Linked DNA regions of Homo sapiens: region 2 is linked to region 1. A link means that fine-mapping ties the variant in region 1 to the expression of a gene that starts in the linked region. Tissue or cell type: whole blood. Region 1 holds a variant in brackets; the other region holds the start of a gene. All regions are shown on one strand. Distances are from middle to middle.

Region 1 (8,334 bases):
GAGCTCAGGAGTTCGAGACCAGCCTGGCCAACATGATGAAACCCCATCTCTACTAAAAATACAAAAAATTTAGCCGGACGTGGTGGCAGGCACCTGTAATCTCAGCTACTCAGGAGGCTGAGGCAGGAGAATCGCTTGAACCCAGGAGTTGGAGGTTGCAGTGAGCTGAGATCGTGCCACTGCACTCCAGCCTGGGCAACAGAGTGAGAATCTGTCTCAAAAAAAAAAAAAAAGAAAGAAAAAGAAAAAAGAAAAAAGAAGGCAGCATGATGAGCCAGGGTGGTGGCTCATAACCCCAGCGCTTTGGGAGACTGAGGCGGGAAGATTGCTTTAACCCAGAAGTTCAAGACCAGTCTGGAGAACATAGTGAGACACACACCTCTATTAAAAAAAAAATAGAAGAAGGCAGCATGGTTGGAAGGGAGAGAGTGAGGGGCAGGACAGGGCAAGGGAACCACAGATTTGCCCTTGAGAAAAGTCACTCTGGCTTCAGAGTGGAGAACAGGTTGTTGGGGGCTTAGAGGGAATACTGGGAAGTAATTTAGGAGAAGGGTGACAGCAGCTTAGAGTAGGATGAGGGGAAATGGAAAACAGACAGATTTGAGAGCCACTTAGCAGGTTAAGCAACAGAATTCGGAGATGCATTAGATGGGGAAGGGAAGAAATGAAAGAAAGGGAAGGGAAAAGGGTATGTCCCGGGTTTCCGGCCTGCATGGAGTGCCATTCACCGAGACAGAGGAAAGAAGAAAATGTGCTTGGAGGTGGTGTGGAGAGGACTTGGAATTTGGGTGGGGTCCCACTGGGCTTCCAATGTCTTGGAGTCCTCCAGGAGGTGGTGCCATCCAGAAAGATGGGTCTGGAGCTCACAGGGGAGGGCTGGGTGGGCCCCAGAGCGTTTGGGAGGTGGACGGAGTCTCTTCTCCCTGCCGCAGATCCCTATGTCTGTCCCGGAAATCAGCTCCTCCCAGCATCCTGTCAAAACCGGCCTATCGGATGCCTTCATGATTCTCAATCCATCCCCGGATGTGCCAGGTGAGTCTTCAGGGACCCCGCAGAGGCCTTGATGGGGGTAGGACTCCGCTCAGACTGAACCTGAGCTGCTGGGGGGATGGCAGTGGCAGGGAGTAGACAAGGGGCAGAGAGTTGAGAGGGAAACCAGGCAGGAAAGGATGCCCAGTGACTTCCAGCTTTTCTTTGTTATAGCAGAGGGACCATTTTCTCCAGCAAAATCTCCAATGGGAGGCACTGCTCTGGTTGTTAAGGTGAAAGGGAGCCACAGCCCTTCCACTCAGCCCCTGTTCTATGTAGAAAACCTCCAAAGATGCCCTAGTAAGGGGTTTGAGTCCTCCCAGAATACAACCATTGTGGCCTTCCCACTCCAGGTGATAAAGGGAGCATCATAGGATGCCAGGAGACAGGAATCCAGCCTCGGCCATGCTGTTACCTCCCTGTCCTTCAGCAAACCACATCATCTCTCTAGCCTCAGTTGCCTCATCTACAAAATGGGATAGTAGCTGAAGGAGTGCTTCTCCCTCCCAGGCCCTCCTCCAGTGCTGACATTTTAGGAGGTCATAGCTCTTTCTCCCCTGCTCCCGACCCCCATTGCGTGCTCACGAGGGTCTTGGATTTGTACTCCTGGGGAGCGCGGCAGGCATCCCATGCACTGCCGCTCCTTCTAGACCCTTGTCTCAGAGACTTTTTAACCTGACCTCTTCTGCTGAGCCGTATGCACAAGTTCTGCCATGTAGGACCCCGGGAGGTCTGGGGAGGAGCCTTTGTCTGCCCTTCCCACCCCACCTGGGCTTTGATGGGGCCTGGGGGCATTCTCAACTCCACTCTTGCCATGCCAGGCTGGACGGAAGGACACGCTTGGGAGCCCCCAAGTCACCTTCCTGTAGAAGGGCAAGGTACCGCCGTTCTGTGAAATCAGGGCTTCCCGGGGGAGGCATCATTGCCTATTTCTGTTCGGTTCCATCAGTACACGTGTTCTGAGTTCCTGCTTACACACTGGGCCACTATGTTCCAGGCACTGTTGAGATACAGTGAAGAGGAAGGGCATCTGCCCTTGAGGCATTCAGTATCTGAGCACAGCCTTTTTTTTTTTAAACAAAGTCTTGCTCTGTCATTCAGGATGAATGCAGTAGTGCAATTTCTACCCACTGCAGCCTCCACCTCCCAGGTTCAAGTGATCCTCCCACCTCAGCCTCCCGAGTAGCTGGGACCACAGGCACATGCCACCATGCCTGGCTAATTTTGTTATTTTTTGTAGAGACAGGGCCTTGCTATGTTTCCCAGGCTTGTCTCAAACTCCTGAACTCACACGATCCTCCCATCTTGGCATCCCAAAGTGCTGGGATTACAGACGTCAGCCCCCATGCCCCACCCCAAACCTCTGTCTTTAACAGAAATGTTAAGGGTTGGGGAACAATGGGGCCTTTAATCTATTTTTTTTTTAATCTGAAGGAAAGGACCAGGGCTTAGTTAAAAGGCCTTACCCAGTACCTTCTATATGCAAAGTTCAGTGGAGTGTTAGGGGCTCAGCTCTGGAACTGGAAGCCTGAGCTGGAGTCCACACTTTCCACAAGCATCTGACCTCTGGTGAGTCACTCAACCTCTCTGCGTTTATTTCTTTATCTGTAAAATAGGGATAAGAGTGATACTTTGCCCCTACAGCTGCTGCAAACACGCAGGCGATAGTGTATGTAAAGTGTTGGGCCTAATGTCTGGCACATCAGGTCTGTGAGTCCGGTATAAGAATATCTCACTACAGTAGACTTTAAAACTCAGCATTTTATAATCCAGCAGGACACCTTGTTCTGTAGCGAACAGTGCAGGACTAGGAACAAGCAGTGTCCTCATGCTGGTGTCGCAGGTCAGATGCCGCCACAGCACTTTCACACTTTCATGCAGCTTTTGTGACTAGGGACAAAAAGTCACATGCTATAGTGGCGCAGAGTTTCCCTACCTTTACTTGTTTGCACATCCCTCTTTGAGATTTTTGCCATTTCCATGAATTACTATTCTTTTTTTTTTTTTTTTTGAGACAGAGTCTCGCTCTGTTGCCCAGGCTGGAGTGCAGTGGCACGATCTTGGCTCACTGCAACCTTTGCCTCCCGGGTTCGAGTGATTCTCCTGCCTCAGCCTCCTGAGTAGCTGGGATTACAGGCGCCGGCCACCACGCCTGGCTGATTTTTGTATTTTTAGTAAAGACAGGGTTTCACCATGTTGTCCAGGCTGGTCTCAAACTCCTGACCTCAGGTGATCTGCCTGCCTCGGTCTCCCAAAGTGCTGGGATTACAGGAGTCAGCCACCGCGCCCAGCCATGAATTACTATTCATTATTATTATTATTATTAGAGACAGGGTCTCAGGCTGGAGCGCAGTGTCCCCATCATAGTTCATTGCGGCCTCAAACACTTGGGCTCAAGCCATCCTCCCACCTCAGCCTCCCAAGAAGCTGGGGCCACAGGCACATGCCACCATGCCCAACTAATTTTTAAATTTTTTTTTGGAGAGATGGACAGGGTTTTCCCATGTTGCCTGGGGTGGTCTCAAACTCCTGGGCTCAACTTAACCTCCCCTGCAAGCCTCCCAGTGCCCAATGTGCTGGGATTACTGGCCTGGGTCACTGAGCCCAGCTTATTTAGTAATGCATGTCTTTTTTTTTTTTTTGAGACGGAGTCTCGCTGTGTCGCCCAGGCTGGAGTGCAGTGATGAGATCTCAGCTCACTGCAAGCTCCACCTCCCGGGTTCACGCCATTCTCCTGCCTCAGCCTCCTGAGTAGCTGGGACTAGAGGCACCTGCCACCACGCCTGGCTAATTTTTGTATTTTTAGTAGAGATGGGGTTTCACCATGTTAGCCAGGATGGTCTCAATCTCCTGACCTTGTGATCCACCCTCCTTGGCCTCCCAAAGTACTAATGCATTTCTTTATCTTCATTTATAAAGTTATATTTTTTCATGAATAAGTGTATCTGGTCTAAAATGCAAAAGATATAAAAGGATGTACAGAGATTAGGTTTTTCACCTGCCCCTGAACCCTGTCTCTCAGTTCGCCATCTCTCAGCTCTCCTCCCTGGAGGCAAAGGGAGGGGAAACCAGTGTTCTGGGTTATCTCCAGAGCTGCAAGCCTTCAGGTGAGTGAGTGTGTGTGTGTGTGTGTGTGTGTGTGTGTGTGTGTATTTGATAGCATACGATGTCAGTGTTTCTGCACTTGAACAGAGTACATCCTGCCCACTGTTCTGTCTCAGCACACAGTGAGCTGCCTCATTCTTCTCTTTAATGGCTGCCTGATAGTCCATTCCATGGATGGACCTTAATTTAACCTGTCCCCTGGGGGTAGACTTTTCAGTTGTTTTAAATCTTGGGCTATAACAAATAATACAGTAGGTACTTTCATGCCCCCGTGTGAGTATTTCCGTACGCTATATTCTCAGTGGTCCAATCATTGGGTCAAAGGGCAGGGGCATTTACA[A/G]TTTTGATAGCTGTGGCCAAAGTGGGTTCCACGGAGACTCTGGCACTTTACCCTCCTCATAGGTGGGCATGCCTGTCACCTACTCTTTCGCTTGCCGTGTGTCCCAAGGCAAGGTCTGGGCTGTAGCTGTCACCATCTAATGAGTTGCCTCGAGCTACCTCAAGGGCTGTGGTGAGGATTAGCTGAGATATCCATGCACAGAGCACCAGGCACTGTGCCTGGCTTGGGCGGGGTGCCCAGTAAAGGCTGGTTAGCACCCACCAAGCATCTCGCCCCAGTCCACACCTTCATCTGGGCAGATCTGTGGGTGGGGTGGGTGGCACTCAAGGGTCAAGGGGCTGGTGAATGGGGCCTGGTTAATTCCCAACAGGCCAGGAGTTCTTTCCCCTCTTCAGAAATTCACCAGCTTCTTCTTCCTCCACCTTCCTACAACCTCCCTTTCTATTCTTTCTTCCCAATATCTGCCTGCCTGCAGCATTCCCAGCTGGTAAGCAGGCATAGACTTGCTCCCCGAAGCATACCACCTCTCGGTAGGGCCAGCCGCTAGACACCCTTCCCACGCAACACTGCATGATATCGAGGGAGATGGCAGAGGGCAGGGCATCGGAGTGGAGGGGCATCTGATTTGCATATGCTACTAGAAAGGAGTTTTGTGGTCAAGTTTTTGCTGCTTCTACTTGGGACTAATTCAGCTCTCAGCATAACTAGGGTGGTCCCGGCTTATGGTTCTGGGAGCAAATGGCTCTGGTGGCTTGAGGGCAAAGCGCCCACTGCTAAGCGGCAAATAAGGAATCCCTCCTCCCTGGTCAGCATTTGGGTGGGTTATAGTCTTGATCCATGGGCCCGTTGGCTGGTGGCTGTACCCCAGGCCTAGCCTGCCACAGAAGTGTGGGGCTCGCACCTCACCCTCCCTTCCCTTCTTCTCCGTCTCCCTTTTTAGGGCCCCGTGCCCTCTGTCTCCTTTCTTCCACAAAACTGTCCTGGATGCTGTGGCTCATTGCCACCCATACCACATGGCTCCTCATGAGGCCTTTGTGCCCCAGTGGCCTAGACTTGGATATAAAGCCGGGCAGGGTGTCTGTCAGACAGCAGGCACCTACTCGATACGTGATACGTGTGAATGTCCCTCCCTCCTTCCCTTTCTCAAACACGGCCTTGAACTCTTCTGCGCGTTTCTGATATTTCAGTGCCTCTGTTATGTTGCTGCTACACGAGGAACTGTTTTTAAGCTAGTAGAGCTGTTTTCCTGTCTTTGCCATATGTGTATGGAGCAGTCTTTGAAACTGCACACAAGCGGCGACAGCAGAAAACTCTTCCTTCAGCTCCAATGTGTGGCTTCCCTTGCTCCATGCCATGGGGCCCTGTGGATATCACCTTATCCTTTAAGGCCCATTTCCAACCCTAGATATTAGATCCTGGGCTGAGAGTCAGTGCACCCCACTACAGTTGTATCAGTTGTCAAAATATTGAAATACTTGCATTCTTGTTGGCAAATTGCTGCTGATTTGAGCCCCCTCGTACCTCCCACGACCCCTCCTGCCCTCCCCTTAGCCCCCTGCGCTCCCAGTCCTCTATCAAGTATTACAGCCTGGGCTCCAGGACCTGGCTCCATGGCTGCAGGCAGCATCTGCTCTGACTGGTTGGTAAACGCCTGTGTTGAGCCAGTTGTTAAATCATCTCCGTATCACCTGGTTGCATTAGTTAGCTACAGCTGTATAACAAATTGCTCCAGAATTTAGTGGCTTAAAACTGCAACATATTATCTCAGAGTTTTTATGGATCAGGAAGCAAAGCACAATTCAGCCAGGACCTCTCATTCAAGGTCTTTCACAGGCTGCGACTGAAGTGTTAGCCAGCGGCCAGGCACGGTGGCTCACGCCCATAATCTCAGTTCTTTGGGAGGCCAAGGCAGGGGATCTCCTGAGGTCAGGAGTTTGAGACCAGCCTGGCCAATATGTCGAAACCCCATCCTTACTAAAAATACAAAAGTTAGCTGGGTGTGGTGATGGGTACCTATAATCCCAGCTACTTGGGAGGCTGAGGCAGGAGAATCGCTTGAACCCGAGGGGCGGAGCTTGCAGTGAGCTGAGATCGCACCACCTCACTCCTCACACCACTCACTCACGATTTCACTGGGTGAAAGAGTGAAACTCTGTCTCAAAAAAAAGAAAAAAAGTGTTAGCCAGGGTCACAGTTACCCCCGTGATGGGGTGGCAGGTGGGGAGGGTTGGGACCGGCTTCAGAGCTTTCATGTGGTTTGGCAGGATTCAGGATTCAGAATTCAGGATTCAGTTCCCCAAGGAGGCCTTCTTTGGCTCCTTGCCTGGTAAACTTCCCCATGATATGGCAGCTGGCTTCCATCAGAGCAGGCAAGCGAGACAAAAGCAGAGGGCGAGGAAGACGCAAACCAGGGTCTTTTTATAGCTTAATTTTAGATGTAACATCCTATCTTTTTTGCCACATTCCGCTGGCTAGAACCAAGTCACAGATCCAGTCTACGCTCAGGGACTGGATTGCACCTGGGTGTGGATACCAGGCAGCCACCGTAGAGGCTCTCTGGGGGCCATGCTAGCGTCTGCCTACCACACTGATTATAATCCTCTTTCCCATGCACTAAGCTGGACAGTGTCTTGGATCTTCCCCAAACATTGTGAGTTTGTACATTTGTCCCTTTCTAAATGAGGACACAAATGTTCAGAGAGGTAGAGTGACTTATCCTTGGTCACACAGCTATGAAAGGAAGAATTCAAGTCCAGATCTTCTCCATTTAAATCCTGGAGTCCACCACTGAGCCTTTCTTAGACTGACCCACTCCCATTCCACCCAGGGGAATCTTTTCCTCCTCAGCTCCCCCAAACACCCACAGAGTGGGGTGTGCAAACTCCCCAGGCTGCTTCTTGGGACTGTTCTTGGTGTCTGTGCCTTATTTCCTTCCCTATCCTGCATCCCATGTACATTACTGAGCCCACTGTCGGGGCAGGGATGTGTCTGTTTCATCTGCACCTCCCTCAAGGGCTTCTTCCAGGCAGAGTCTCAGGAAACGTGTGCCTGATCAAGCTGTGGAATGAGGGTGAATTAGAGGGGGTCAGATCCCCGGTAGCATCTGCCTCTGAGGCTCCTCTGTGATTCTGGAATGAGAAGCCCCTTTAGAGCAAACCAGAGAGATGAGGGGTGAAGGGGGCGGGGAAGCACAACCCACCTGAAAGAGCAGGGAGGCTATGTCTGCTCTGCAGGATCAGGAGGAAATCTCGGTGGTGGGAGCGGTTGGAGTCTGACTCCAGGTGCTGTGTGCTGAGGTGTTGGGTCTACCTGCCAGGTGAAAGCCAGCACCTGACCCCCAGACACTGCCAGCAGCTCCCAGCCTCGTCCTCCTTCCCTCTGTCTCCTGTTCCTCCTTGTCACCATCAGATCCGATCACATCACTCTCTGACTCCTTGCTGCCCACAGGTCAGGTCAAAATCCTCAGTGTGGCATTCAAGGCCGGGCACAGCTGGGTGCAGTCAACCACGCAGGCGCATTTCCAAACCCTCCCTCCGCTCACCGCCCTCTGCCTGGGGAGCTCTGGTCTGTGTCCCCTGGGTTCCCTGAACATGCTAAGGGCTGTCCACATCGGTATGACACAGTCCCCTTGTATAAAACGCCTCTTACTCCAATCTTTTTTACTGCTTGGCACCATTCTCCCTCTCCAGCGGCCCAGGTCAGATGCTGTGCAAGTAACCACTCCGCCATGCAGTGGAATTCACGGCTTCCTCTTCTTCCCCCCGGCACTTCGCTGATACTTTTTTCTTCTTCTTCTTTTCTTTCTAGTGGTGGCGAGAACAAATGCTGATACTCTTAACATAGAACTTATTGTCCTCCCC
Region 2 (7,663 bases), 49 kb before region 1:
TTTATAAGGCTGTAGTAAATGCTATTGAAAAATGCTTACCTCTTATTTCAGCCTTCTCCTCTGTCTGTTCCTCAAACTGGCTTTTGGTTTGAGAGAAGGGGAGGAGCGACCCTGGGGTTGGAAAAGCCCAGGAGACAAGATGGAGATCCAGTCTGTTCATCTGTACATCCCTGGACCTGGGGCGGTCCTGGGGACAGTCCTTTTCTCAAGCCAGTCAGTGGACATTTGGGGGAGAGTCTAGGCACGGATATAGAGGACCCAATATTCCTTTTTTTTTGAGACAGAGTCTCGCTCTGTTGCCCAGGCTGGAGTGCAGTGGCGCGATCTCGGCTCACTGCAAGCTCCGCCTCCAGGGTTCACGCCATTCTCCTGCCTCAGCCTCCCGAGTAGCTGGGACTACAGGCGCCCGCCACCACACCCGGCTAATTTTTGTATTTTTAGTAGAGACGGGGTTTCACTGTGTTAGCCAGGAGGTCTCGATGTCCTGACCTTGTGATCCACCCGCCTCGGCCTCCCAAAGTGCTGGGATTACAGGCGTGAGCCACCGCTCTCGGCCCAAGATTCCTTAATCTAGTTGGTTTTCCGAAAGCGTGGCTATGAAGGAAGAACTCAGGAGTTCTAGCCATTCCCATTGTATTTTGTGTTTTTTTCAGTAGGTATCCCGACGCAACCCTCAGATTAAAACTTTAAGGGAAAATGAAGACCACACCCCTATTCCATAGAAATTAACTCTAATGACAACGTAGTGGCGTGGCGGGGGTATAGCTCAGTGGTAGAGCATTTGACTGCAGATCAAGAGGTCCCCGGTTCAAATCCGGGTGCCCCCTCTGTGCTCCGGAGTTACCTCGTTTTGTTGGTCTCCGGAGGTCCTCTAAAGAGTTCCCGCACAGATGGAATGGGAGGGAGTCTCGAGCCCTGCCACCCTTTTTGCTTTCGCAGGCGAGTGAGGATGGAGTCCTGGCCCCTGCCAGTGGCTCAGCCTGTGTGTGTACCCAGGGTAGAATGCAATGCGAGTGAGGGCGAGGAGCTCCGGGCTGACCCTTGGAACACGGTACGGGTGGCTCAACCTCGCAATGGCAGGGCGGAGGCGAGCGCACCCCCAGGTCAGCCTGGCTCTTTCTTGGCGGGAAGGAGGCTGAGTTTCTAAGGGCTGGGCTGGGGAAGACAGGTCGGGAGAAGCCGCGTGAGCATGTGGGAGGGAGAAAGAAGCTCCGAGACGTGGCAAGGGGTCTTCTGCAGGGCAGGAGAGTGGGACGCCCCCGAAGTGAAATATTTCGAGAGACTTCTCCTTCCACACCCCAGGAATATATTTTCTTATACTGCCAGTGGGGATCTTCAGCTCAGAGCTTCAGGGAACAACCCCTGCTTCCAAGTGAGTAATTCTTCTGGGAGTTGTATTTTTTCCATCTCTTGTAAACGTCTTACCCCACTTCCACTTCCCTTCGGGAACGCCACACAGCGCCTGCGCAGCAATACCACTAAACGACTACGTGCGGTCGGTTTGCCGGCAGAGGGGGTATAGCTCAGTGGTAGAGCATTTGACTGCAGATCAAGAGGTCCCCGGTTCAAATCCGGGTGCCCCCTCTTTGGCCTTTTCGAGATACTGTTTTTGTCCTGGGTGTCGATTTTTCCTAAGCTGTTTGCTTTTACTCCTACTGGCAGACGAGGAGCAGTGAGGGACTGAAAGGAACTGGGGATTCAACAGCAGTGGCTCTCAAAATGTGGTCCTGGGACCAGCAGCATTACCTGGGTACGCTCGGGCCTCATCCCAGACCTAATGAATTAGAAACTTGAGGGTGGAGTCCAGAAATCTGTGTTTTCATATACGCTCCCCATCGCTTGAGTCCAGGAGTTGGAAGCTGCAGTGAGCTATGATCGCAGCACTGCACTCCAGCCTAGGCAACGTGCGAGAACCTGTCTCAAAAAACAAACAAAATACACACACACACACACACACACACACACACACACACACACACACACCCTGCAGGTGATTACGATCTCAAGTTCTAGAGGCTTACGTTAAAATTTACACATTTGCTTCTACTATTTACAAGTTTATGTTTCAGCCTGAGCTCTTCTTGTAAGACAGACCACGAGGTACCCCAGATGGAGGAATGTGCAAAGACGCCGGGGCTGGAGCTGGAATCCGTCCCGAGACTTCTCACCTTGACCTCGAGGAAGGCAGGAGGTCGGAGACAGGGGGTGGGCAGGCTGGGGAAAGAGGAAACCCGCAGGACAAGAGGGTTGTGGCTCGTCACGTGGCCACTTGAGGGCAGCAAGTAGCTGCAGCTGGAGGTAGCTGCCTATCTGATTCTGTTTGAGAGTCCGCCAAGTTGGGATTTAAATTAGACATCAAGAAGAATTTACAGACCGGCCTTGCCTTGTTCCACGGTAAGGGGACATTGGGTTTAGGGCTGGAGGAGGTAGTCTCTGGGACTCTGGGCCCGGCGGAAGGAGGAACCGGCGTTCTAAGAGATTAGAGAGCCTTTAGTTGTTTCCTTTCTTAGGTGTTTTTTTTTCTTTTCTTTTCTTTTTTTTTTTTTTAACCTCAGTGCCACGGAATCCGTCTCTTCCAGCCCACAGTGTACCTTCTCCTGTCCCCGCCCATATCCCTCCTCCTGGAAAATTTCTCCAATGGCGCTCAGCGTTCGCACCCTTCCTCTCCGCGGTTTTCTAGTCCCTAGGCCCCAGCCCACTAGAAGCCAGGATGCCCCCTCACCCCGTCTCCCACTCTCCAGCGCCCCAGCTCCTTGCCGTCACAAGAACGAAGTAGGTCAGGGGAGGGAAGAGGCATCTTCGTGTCCTGACCTGATTCCTTGCCGTCTATTAAATATCCTACATTGCGGGTATTTTTATTCTGTCCTGGAAGAAAAAATAAAAAGATTATCTATCCCCAGAGCCTGTCAGAAGGTGGTGACAGGTGGGGTGAGCCATTTCCTCGTCTGGGGCTGGCTCTGAAGATTGATTGGGTCTGGCCCTGAGTAGGCCTGGAGGCCCCAGAGAGGCAGGAGGCCTGGGTTACCTACTCGTGGGGAGGGGTCCAGACTGTTGCAGAGTAAGGGGTAGCCAGGCCCCCTCCACCCTCACGTCTGCTAGGCTTGGGGGGCAAATCGGTGCTGGAAATGGGGGGTGGAGGGATAAGGTGGAGTCATGGAAGGGGGGTGGGATTCAGGCCCCTCTTGGGGAGAAAAGCTGGGGGTCTTTGCTGCAGGGGGAGATTTCTGGGGGTGGGGGCTGGAGGACAAAGCATCAGAGACGCACAGAATTCCGAAGAACAGCTCAGGAAGTCGCAGAGCTTGGAGGAGCTGGGGGCGGGGAACAGTCAGGGGCCCGTGACCCAGGGATGGGGCGCCTGTCCCTTCCAGGGGTCCAGTCCTCGGGCCTTCTCTCTGCAGCTTTCCCGGCGGAACGGAGGAGGGAAAGGGAGCCAGGAGCTCAGTGAGGAGCGCGGGGCGGCTGATGCTTCTAGGGGTTCTCTCAGCCCGAGGGGCTCCCGCCCTGTCCCCTACTCTGCACCCCTTGCCTTGGGAGCGGCTGCAGAGCTCTAGGGGAGCGCTCCGTTAGGGCTGAGGGCAGGCGCCGGGAGAGCCCCCAACGACGCCGCGCCCCCCGCCCCGCCCCCTGCCCCAGCTCCCCCCCACCCCCACCGACCCAGCGGCCCCCCCAGCTCCCCGCCTGCTCCCGGAGGCCGCAGCCTCCAGCTCCGCTCGCGCTCTCGCCGCTCCTGCCGGCTCGCCCGGCCCCGCGCTCCGCCGTCTCCTCGCCGCCCGCCCCTCCGCCAGCCCCGGGGACCGCGCGGCCGCAGCCTGAGCCAGGGCCCCCTCCCTCGTCAGGACCGGGGCAGCAAGCAGGCCGGGGGCAGGTCCGGGCACCCACCATGCGAGGCGAGCTCTGGCTCCTGGTGCTGGTGCTCAGGGAGGCTGCCCGGGCGCTGAGCCCCCAGCCCGGAGCAGGTAGGACTGGCGGGAGCCGGCCCGGGTGGGCCGGGGGCGGGGAGGGACGGGCAGTCAGGTGTGGGCATGGGCAGGTGTGGACGGCCTGGCGATGTCCGCGAGGGGGGCATTGTCCGCAGGAGGCCAGGAGAGCTGTGGGCTGTGGGCAGGTGGATAGGGACCCCACTTTCCCAAACACATAGGGTGTGTGAGTGACGGTGGAGACACCGATGCCCGGACCTCTCCTTCTCTCCTGGAAGGATACTGGAGGGACCTTAGGAGAGGGGGCTCTATGTGGCCATGGGCTCTGAAAGGGGACAGCGGGAGAGTCATCAGGACCCCTGATCACCCCAGGCAAGGCTGAATTCTGATGAGATGGGAGCCTGGGGAGGCCCCTGCCCCAGCCATGCCTTCTTTTCCTCTTCTCTGCCACACCCCCGACCCCAAAGCTGATCCAGGCTAGGGATAGGTGGGAGCAGCCAGGGGGATGGTGGGGACACAGCGTCTCTGCCTGGGAAGGCAGCAGCCATTCGGTCACCTTCCCTTGCCTATTTGGTGTCAGTAGAGAGGCAGTGGGCCCAGGAAGAAGCAACTTGCTGCTTCTGCACCCCCAGCCTCAAGAGTCCCCCTCCTCACACCTGCTCCCATTTGCCCTGGCAGCCTTTGGCTTTCAGCTACTCTGGCTCTAGATGGGGCACTGGGGTAGGGGGTGGAGGGAGGCGTCCCATTCTGCACACTCCTCTTCCCCCCTACCAGTTCTCCAAACTCATCTCTCCCACCTGGAAGTCCTTTCTGAGATCTACCTGGAATCCCTCATGGTATAATTTTCATAGTCTCTGTTCTCCCCTAAGCACCTAGACTTTCTCTGGGGTTGGGGAGATGGGTAATTTGCAGCCTGGCCCCTCAGCAGAGATGATTAAGAAGATAGATACCTGTGCATCATTGGCATGGGTGCCCCTCAGGTGGGGTGAGGGAGGCGCTGTTGAGGTGAGTGCTGTGGTTGACCTGCTGTGTCTCAGGAGTGTGCTGGCACCAGGCACAGTGTCAGTGGCAATGTTCTTGACTTTAATGGTCCCAGCATGTAGCTGAGACAGACCTGGGTCCCTATTGAGAAGAAGAGTATGTTGGGGGTGGGAGGGGAAGGAGGCTGACAGTGGGAAGTATGGGCAGAGGGCAGTGGAGCTGACGAACCGAGAAGCTGCTGGTGAGAACCACCAATTTTCAGGGAGACCACACAGAGGGTGGCCAGAGACGTGGCTTCTAGTCCCGCCATCTCACTTGCTGTGTGACTTTAGACAAGTTACTTTCTCTCTCTGGACCTATTTTTGCATTTATAAAGTGAGGCTGTTGGCAAAATCTTTGACTCTTGTGCGTGGAATAATGAAGGATCTTTTATAATTGCCTTTCCTTTTCATATTTGTTAGGGTCTTTATGGGTAACTGATACTTTAAAAAAATCAAGGTAAACAGGAGAGAGTTGGATATGTTATGAATAATTTCTGGGCTCCTTTGAATCCTCAACCTGGTGTGATCTTCTGAACTCTGGGTGTAACAGAGTTTATGAGGGGAGGATCTGAACCTTTGGCTGGATTGTGTGAACCACGGAGAGGGCTGGGGAAGGGGGAATTGGGAGGTAACAAGGATGGGCTGGGAGATAGTGGCCAGACCCGGGCCTGGCTGAGGGCGGCCCCTTCAGAGTAGGGTTGGGGTAGTAGACGGTTGAGGAGACCAGGAAGAGTGGGGCAGGCAGAGACTTGAATCACTTCTCTAAGTAGAGGCTATCCTGTCTTCTTGGCTTTGACAGAGATTGAGCCAGGAGAAATGCACTTTTTCTGCAGCAGGAGGGATAGAGGTTAGACTTAAGGAATCTGTAAGAAGCCAGAGGCGGCAGCTGTTGACTCCCAGTCCGGTGCCCTTTTCACAGGCCAGGTGGGATTTCACAGGCAGGAGGACCTATGAGGAGGAAGCGGGTGTCTGGGGAGGCCAGATGTAGGAGAAGGACGTTCTGGGGGAGAGTTGCTAAGGAGGGGCAGCCTGACCTGATTGATGGCGGAGTTGTTGTGACCAGTGGAAGGGCAGCTGGGAGCAGGACCTGAAGAGATGCTAGCATCCTTCCCCAAGGCTCTGGGTTTGTGGGGCTGGTGGGGGGCCTTGGGAAGTAGCTGAGATCTCCCCTCGCTCCTGATGGACAGGCTTGTTTGGTAGAGCCTTGAAACCTCATCTATCATTAGAACAGCAGCAGCAGAGAGATGAGTGGCCCAAAGACAGAGTCAGACAGCAGGGGAGACCAGGATGACAGACAGGAAAATGGCCTTGGGGTGCAGAGCAGGGGCCCAGGGAACTGACAGTCTGGTCAGATGGAACCAGAGGTGCATATGACAGATAAAGAAGAGGCAGCGAGAGTTGGCATCCTGGCCTGGGAGTCCTGCAGGAGGCCAGGCTCAATACCAACTACTGGTGACCCTGACAGCTTCCTCCTTTCTCTGAGGAAGGTTTCCCCGTCTATAAAATGGGGGCTTGCACCAGTCACGGTGGCTCATGCTTGTGATCCTAACACTTTGGGAGGCTGAGGTGGGAGGATAGCTTTAGACCAGGAGTTTGAGACCAGCCTGGGCAAAATAGTGAGACCCCATGTCTATAAATGATTTAGGCCAGGCAGGGTGGCTCATGCCTGTAATCCCAGCACTCTGGGAGGCCGAGGCCGGCGGATCACCTGAGGTCAGGAGTTTGAGACCAGCCTGGCTAACATGGTGAAACCCCGTCTCTACTAAATATACAAAAATTAGTATATTTAGTATTGTTATTAATATTATTAATATTAGTATATTAGTAAAAATTAGCCAGGCGTGGTGGTGCATGCCTGTAATCTCAGTTACTCAGGAAGCTGAGGCAGGAGAATAGCTTGAACCCGAGAGGCAGAGGTTATAGTGAGCTGAGATCGCACCACTGCACTCCAGCCTGGGCAACAGAGTAAGACTCTGTCAAAAAAAAAAATTAAAATTAAAATAAAAAATTAGCTGGGCATGGCGGTGTGCGCCTGTAGTCCCAGGTACTCGGAAGGCTGAGGCAGGAGGATCGTTTGAGCCCAGGAACTGGAGGCTGCAGTGAGCTATGATCATGCCACATAGTGAGGGCAGCATAACGAGGTCCCATCTTTTTTTAAAAAAAGGAGGGAAGGAGGTTGGACCAGATTGTCTCTAGGGCTCCAACAACCTGAGACTAAAATGCGAACTTATGGAGGTCAGGCAGCCCCTCCCTCATCCCACCATCTTCTCTAGCTCTCCCCAGATTCACCCCTTAACCCACTCCAGCTGCCGTCCCCTCCGATCGACAGATAACTAACTGGCTTCTTCTCATTCAGGTCTTAATCAGCTCAAGGGGACCCTCCTCAGAGAGCCCCACCTCATGGCTCTGTGTAGAGTAGCAACAACCCCAACCCTTTCCTCTGTCTGATTTTCTTCATAGCCCTTACCAAATGATTCATTTTGTATGTCTCCATGAAGAAAACTAGACTCTTCCTGGGTACAGGGCTTGTGTCCCCCCAGCACCCAGCACAGTGCCTGCGACTCAATAAAAGTGTATTGAATGAATGAGTGAGTGACTGAGTGAGTATATCAGAGGTGGCACAGATCCCAGACTCTCCCCTCAAGGGACACACATAGAGAGCTGAACTCTTCTTGCTGTCCCTCCCTTCCCCTCCCCTCCCCTTCCCTCCCTCCCTCTTCCCTT

Evidence for each region. PIP is the estimated chance that this variant, and not a neighbour inherited with it, causes the effect.
Region 2: it holds the start of PLXDC1, and the variant in region 1 is fine-mapped to the expression of PLXDC1 in whole blood (TOPMed, PIP above 0.99).

What each region holds. Positions count from the first base shown.
Region 1 is chr17:39,098,552-39,106,885 of GRCh38, reverse strand. It overlaps PLXDC1 (plexin domain containing 1), which reads left to right. Exons shown (of 14, transcript NM_020405.5): 7 at 933-1,032. Among named protein-coding and RNA genes, the nearest start is that of PLXDC1, 49 kb to the left of the region's middle. RefSeq lists an enhancer at 7,338-7,939. The variant A/G (reference allele first, on the strand shown) is at 4,475.
Region 2 is chr17:39,147,655-39,155,317 of GRCh38, reverse strand. It overlaps PLXDC1 (plexin domain containing 1), which reads left to right and starts at 3,681. Exons shown (of 14, transcript NM_020405.5): 1 at 3,681-3,956. The coding sequence starts at 3,881. It overlaps TRC-GCA2-3 (tRNA-Cys (anticodon GCA) 2-3), which reads left to right and starts at 1,513; the gene lies at 1,513-1,584. TRC-GCA2-4 (tRNA-Cys (anticodon GCA) 2-4) reads left to right here and starts at 756; the gene lies at 756-827. RefSeq lists a silencer at 698-767 and enhancers at 644-1,148, 1,149-1,655, 2,028-2,177.